Regions from separate parts of the Homo sapiens genome. Here region 2 is linked to region 1. Evidence: fine-mapped expression QTL. A gene starts in region 1. The other region holds a variant in brackets. All regions are shown on one strand. Distances are from middle to middle.

Region 1 (2,908 bases):
CGTCTTTTATTGCACAGTATCTTGACAATCAAAACAGAGAAACAATATAACTTTAAATAAGATTCAAAGCACTGACTTCCAATTACCCACAAGCAGAACCCTTCTTAAAATGCAACATTCATTCTGCATGGATGGGCAATGAATTGGACAAAACAAGCTCGACTGATGTTTCTGGGACCATAGAGGAGACATCCTGGAGGAGAACACATTTTTTCTACTTGTATGTCAGAAGATGAGCTAACCACCATGCAAGAGAATAGAAACAAGCCAGCTTCCTCTCGGAGGGAAAAATAAAGCAACTCCTCGCTCGGCTAAGCAGGACAAAGCCAGGACGTGCAAGAAGCCTTCAGTCAAAGGCTCCACGTGCCTTTCCAAGGACGGAGGGACCCACCCACACACAATCACACACAGCCAGCCCACCACGCGCCTGCGGAAGAAAGCCGGGTCCTCGGCCAACCTTCAGCACCAGTGGCCCAGGCTCTCCCAGTTTGCAAACCTCCCGCAGCACCCACCAACTGGAGGGCACAGAGGGAGCAGAGGGCCACATCCTCTTTCCAAGTCTCATCTTCCTCGCCAATGCCTGTTTCTCCCCAACTATGAAGTGAAGTGTACCTCCCCAAGGAAACTGAGACTTACAGGCACACACACCCCAGTCGTCAATAAGTCCCGGAGCCCTACGATCAAGACCAGCGAGTCTTTCCCCGGGACCCCACAACCGGGTTCCCGGAATGACGGGGAGGCGCCGCACTCACCCAGTCCTCGAAGTGGCGGCTCCCGTTCTGCAGCAGCTCCTCAAACTGGATGGTGCAGTTGGCCACGAAGTCGTCGTAGCCTATGGGGGCATCGTGAAAGACAGCCAGCTCGATCTTGCGTCCGTTGCACACATCGGTGACGAACTCGTCGTGCCAGGCCGGGCTGTTGGTCTTCTGCTTGGTGGCCGTTTGGCCGATGCGCGAGTCGTCCACATTGAGGGCAATGTAGGGGTCGAGAAGGAAAGTCTGCGGCCGGGGTCCCACCGCATGGCGCAGCGACCAGGCTGTGGGCTTCAAGCTCACGGCCTCGCAGATTTTGATCTTAAGAAGGCCATTGAACACTACCATGGTCGGGGCGGGGAGTGGGGGCCGGGGTCACTCCGTCTGCCCCGAGGGCAGGAATGAAGAACCGACGGCCCGGCACTCCGAGCCACAGGGACTCTTGGGTCCCCTTTCGCCCCACCCCGCACACTCCCTACACCTTGTGGCGTTGCGCCCTGGCGCGGGCGATTCTCAGCCAGTGCATGTATTTCCTCGCCGGGTTCCTAACGGAAAACAGGGAGGGGGGAGAGCTGGGGGATGTCCGTGTTTGGAGCAAGTCTCTCCCCCCGACCACCAGCTGCACCTCCAGAAGAGAAGACGAGCTGTCGGCTCCGCTGCAAGCCGCGGGGGCTGCCTCGCCGCCTCGCTGGCTCTCCGGCTCCGGACTGCGGGAAAGCGGGCGCCGCGCCCGGCGCTTACCTACCTTTCCGAAACATAATCCCGGGAAATTTCGACTCCGGGAGGGGGATGGGGCGGTGGGACGGGGCGGGGACGAGAACCGGGGGCGCAGATTTCAACCCGGATCCTCTTCGCACACTCAGCGCCTGCCTCTGACCGCGCGGGGCGGGGGGGTGAACGGAGGGATGTTCAGTCTATCCGGAGGGATGCATGTCGAGAGGAAATGGTCCTCCTCGGAGCCAAATTTTTAAAAATCCACAAGCCCCACGGCCAGCCGGGGCCGCCGCCTCCTGGGCGAAGCAGCGCCGCGCCGGAGCCGGCGATCGGGAGGCGCCAGGAGCCCGGAATCTCACATCCGCGCGGGCTCGGAGTCCGGGCGGCCGCCGATCCGGCTCGGGGGCGCAGGCCAGCACCGGGCGGTGCGCAGCGCGGCGGCGGGGCAGGGACTGCGACTCAGCGCGGCCCCACCTCCTGGGCGCCGGCGCCCGCCCTCCGCGCTCCCCGCGTCCCCGCTCTCGGCTGCCGCTCGCTCGCCGCCCGCCAGCCCGCGCTCCCCCGCGGTCTCCTCTCCCTCTGTCGGTGTGCGAGCGAGTCTCCCTCCCTCTAATGCAGGAAATGCGCAAAAGACGTCAGTGTGTGTGAGTGTGTGTGTGTGAGTGTGTGTGTGTGCACGCGCGCGCGCGCACGGCAGTGTTTGGGGAAATAGAAAGTTTTGCCGGTTGGGGGAGCAATACGGAAAAAGTGAGCCGAGGAGACAACGGTGGAGAGCTGGCGAGGCTGCCCGGGGTCGCAGCGGCGGGCGGGTCAGCCGGGGGGCGGGGACCCCGCGCGGGACCCCGGGGTGCGGCGGCGCTGGGCTGGATGCGCGTGCCGGGGGCCGTGGATGGCCATGGATGGGCCCCGCCGGGCCGCGTATCTCTCGGGGACCCTGCGGCCAACACTGTCTTTTAGAGCCGGGGATGGGGGAGTGGAGGGGGCCCTGTTGCCCTAGAGGCCTCGGGACCCTTCCCTTGCCCACCCCCACTCGGGCCGCGGCGGGCAGGAGCAGTCTGCGGAGTTCTGGCCCATCTGTCACTCTGTCCCGGGACGCTGTGATCCACGGCGGTGGGGGAGGGGGAAGGGGGAGGGACAAGCATGGCTCGGGTGAAGTTTTAAACTCTGTTCTTCTCTCTTGCCTTTCTTTGGGGACATTCTCCCCTTTGGGATCTGTCCTGGACTTCGCAGGCTGCGAGAACTTGTTGACAAGTGAAAGCTCGGTAGAGCCCCGGCTTGGTTTGTGGTCTGCTTATTTTTTGCAAAGTGACTGTTCCTGTTTGCGCTGGTCCTTATCGGTGCCCCTTTGGGGGACTTCGGCACTGATCAGCGCGCTGACAGCCGCCGTCCGGGCTGCGGGAAAATGGGGCGCGCCCTCCGGGGGGCGAGTGGCTGTGTCCTTG
Region 2 (2,908 bases), 250 kb before region 1:
TTTCGCTTCTTGGCAGGGGAAGAAATGCCCAGAGCCCAACCCACCGAGCACGCCTCTGCCTTCTCAAAAGGCTCATCTCATCCAGAGCCAGCACAGAGACATGACTTTTTAAACCATTGTTTCATTTTCACATGTGATATAAGTCTGTGTTCTCCATTACAAATACCAAAAGTGAGAGGTGGTACTGTTAAGAAACCTCATCTTCTCCCCCTGTGATTTGCCCTGGATGGGCACGTGCCACCCCCATAGTGTTCAGCACAGGCAGGGAACTTGGAGTTCTTTTGGTTTCAAGACTTCTCGGTTCGCACGCAACCGGCTTCTTTCTAAGAAACTGTTTTGTCTGTTTGTTTGCATTTTTAAGAGAATCTAAAAAGCTGAAAAGCTTTTTTAGTAACATTTTGGATCTTGCACTTGATTTAATCCCAGCATATTGGGAGGCCGAGGAGGGCAGATCACTTGAGATCAAGAGTTCGAGACCAGCCTGGCCAACATAGCAAAACCCTGTCTCTACTAAAAATACAAAAATTACCTGGGTGTGGTAGTGCGTGCCTGTAATCCCAGCTACTCCAAAGGGTGAGGCACGAGAATCGCTTGAACTCAGCAATGGGAGGTTGCAGTGAGCAGGGATCATGCCACTGCACTCCAGCCTGGGCAACAGAGTGAGACCCTGCCAAAAAAAACAAACAAACAAACAAACAAACAAACAAAAAAAAACTGCCAGGCTACAAGCTCTCATATACAAATGCTCCCAAACTGAGGGGGATATGATGAAAGTGATGAGGTGGGAAGAGGGTTTGAGGATGTATTAACCCATTTCCAAGAAGGAAGACCTGGGCTCTCTAAAACTTGGAATCATTCCTCACTGCCTTGCCTTGTACATTCTACATCACTTTCTGGTCTGTGTGTCTAGGCTTCCCTGAACATCTTACATGGGGTTACCAGACAGGAGATAAAAATACAAGATGACTGTTTAAGTTTCAATTCCAGAAAAAATAATTCTTTATAACTATGTGACATGCAATATTTGGAACATAGTTATACCAAAATATTATACAGAGTTGATCTGAAGTTCAAATTTAACGGTGTCCTGTATCTTACCTGCAACCCTAATCTTGCTGGGTCTTTCGGCCTCATCTTCCCTCACAGCCCCAGCTGCTGCAACCCTGTCCCATGGGGATGGTGACGCCATACCATTGACACAAAATCCTTCCCTGTATCTCAAGTGAAGAAAAGGGGATGCTCTGTCTATGGAGTAGCCATAATATTCACAAAATTAGT[A/C]TTTTTTAAAGCCTGTGTTATGTGCCTGTTAATGTATGGAGGAATAACTTCTGAACCAAGATGGCCTGAGGGTATTTCTTGCCAGGCAGGGATCCCTTGGAGGACTCCTCATTCACTGACTTATTTAATGAAGTCCCTCTGACTTCCTTCCAATCAACTCCCTCGGGCACTGAGACCACTGAAAACATGACTATTGATAGTGATTCACACTAAAACACATACTGAAGTGAAATCATTTAGACTAGCATTTCCTCAACTCAATTATATTATTTGGAACTAAACTATATTCACGTAGGATCCTCCTGGGGGGAAAATACATAATTCCACAATCAAATAAGCAGGAAGTTGTATGCTATATATGCCCATCTGGGAAAGTCACTGTACATCAGCATACAAAGGCCTGAGTAGTCTTGCAGTCCAGAAACTCCCAGTGCTCACTCAAGCACTATCCAAACTTATTTGGCCACAGAGCCCACTGAACTCCAGTTCCCTTCTAATAGCTATTAACCCTACAGAGAACACTTTGGATATCAGAAATGTAAATATTTTTGAAACATAACTAACCCTTGAGTTACTGTTTCTTTCTAGCCCCTACTTTAGGTCTGGGGGCTGGGTTCTTCAGAAGTCTTCCTAGCCAAGCTCCCAGACCAGTGTAGTCACAGTCTTTCTTGAAGACCTTACCCAAGTTCCAGCTCCAAGAACTTCCCTGACCCTCCTGGCCTCTCCTGCCCACTCCAGCCAGTTCCTCATTTCTGACTTTTCCCCAGCACAGCTTTTCACACATCCCATGTCCTCAGGATGTTAATCCAAATATCCTGATTTGACTTTTGCTAGTATTTTCTGATTACTTCATTTCTATCTTAGCTCCTCAGGCAGACTTGGAGCTACCTGTGGGCAATATCCTCCTGTTGGATCACAGCCCCTTAGTTCAAGATGGGCTGGGCATTGGCAGGCTGGGCATTGGCAGGCTTTTGGTAAGAGCTTATAGGCAGAATTCTGTTTACTGTATGTATTACACTCATGTTCCAATTACTGCAGGTTTCAGGAACAATGGATGTTTTCTAAGAGAGCCGTGAGCTGGCTTCTCTCATGCACTACGAGAGATGAGAGATGAATCCCAAAGTCGCCTTCTGGGCCCATATTGCTACACCTCCTAATCATCACCATGGCTGGGCAAACACTCCAATTCAAACCCAAGTGGGAGTGGGAAAGACCTGAGAGGGTTGGAGATTTTTATGAGGGTGAAATAATTTCCTAGTTTGTAAGTCAAAATTCCCAAGGACTGTGGGATCTACAACCTAGAAATTCAGATGATTTCAGTTCTTCTGTCCTGGAAAATACCACTTCACTATCCTAAGGCAAAGATGGCCATGTACTCTTATAAAAAGTTATTGCAAAATGACCTGCTCTTAAACTCTGAAGTCACCATACTCTTTTACCGCACCTGGCTGGACTTCAGGGTTTTACAGACATCGTGTGTGAGCTTCATCACAAACCAAGGCCAGCACGGTACAGACTTCCAAGAATTCAACTGCATTTCCATATTCTTCAGGGAACTTTAATCTTCTACCCCAAGACTGAGTTAAAAAGAAAAATCTGAGCAACAACAGGAGAGTCTCTAAGATACATA

Direction of the effects. Positions count from the first base shown, and alleles are read on the strand shown. Sizes are in standard deviations (SD) of each study's normalised expression.
For the expression in sun-exposed skin of the gene that starts at base 1,526 in region 1, allele A in region 2 goes with a lower level than allele C (small effect, 0.33 SD a copy in GTEx).

Evidence for each region. PIP is the estimated chance that this variant, and not a neighbour inherited with it, causes the effect.
Region 2: its variant is fine-mapped to the expression of PRKCE in sun-exposed skin (GTEx, PIP 0.96).

Annotation. Positions count from the first base shown.
Region 1 is chr2:45,650,293-45,653,200 of GRCh38, reverse strand. PRKCE (protein kinase C epsilon) reads right to left here and starts at 1,526. Exons shown (of 15, transcript NM_005400.3): 1 at 753-1,526. The coding sequence starts at 1,100. LOC102724965 (a long non-coding RNA gene) reads left to right here and starts at 1,986. Exons shown (of 2, transcript XR_005647119.2): 1 at 1,986-2,908. RefSeq lists enhancers at 848-1,468, 1,957-2,251 and silencers at 1,627-2,096, 2,267-2,366.
Region 2 is chr2:45,901,688-45,904,595 of GRCh38, reverse strand. The region is part of intron 2 of PRKCE (protein kinase C epsilon); the gene reads right to left. Among named protein-coding and RNA genes, the nearest start is that of PRKCE-AS1, 230 kb to the right of the region's middle. RefSeq lists an enhancer at 1-2. The variant A/C (reference allele first, on the strand shown) is at 1,279.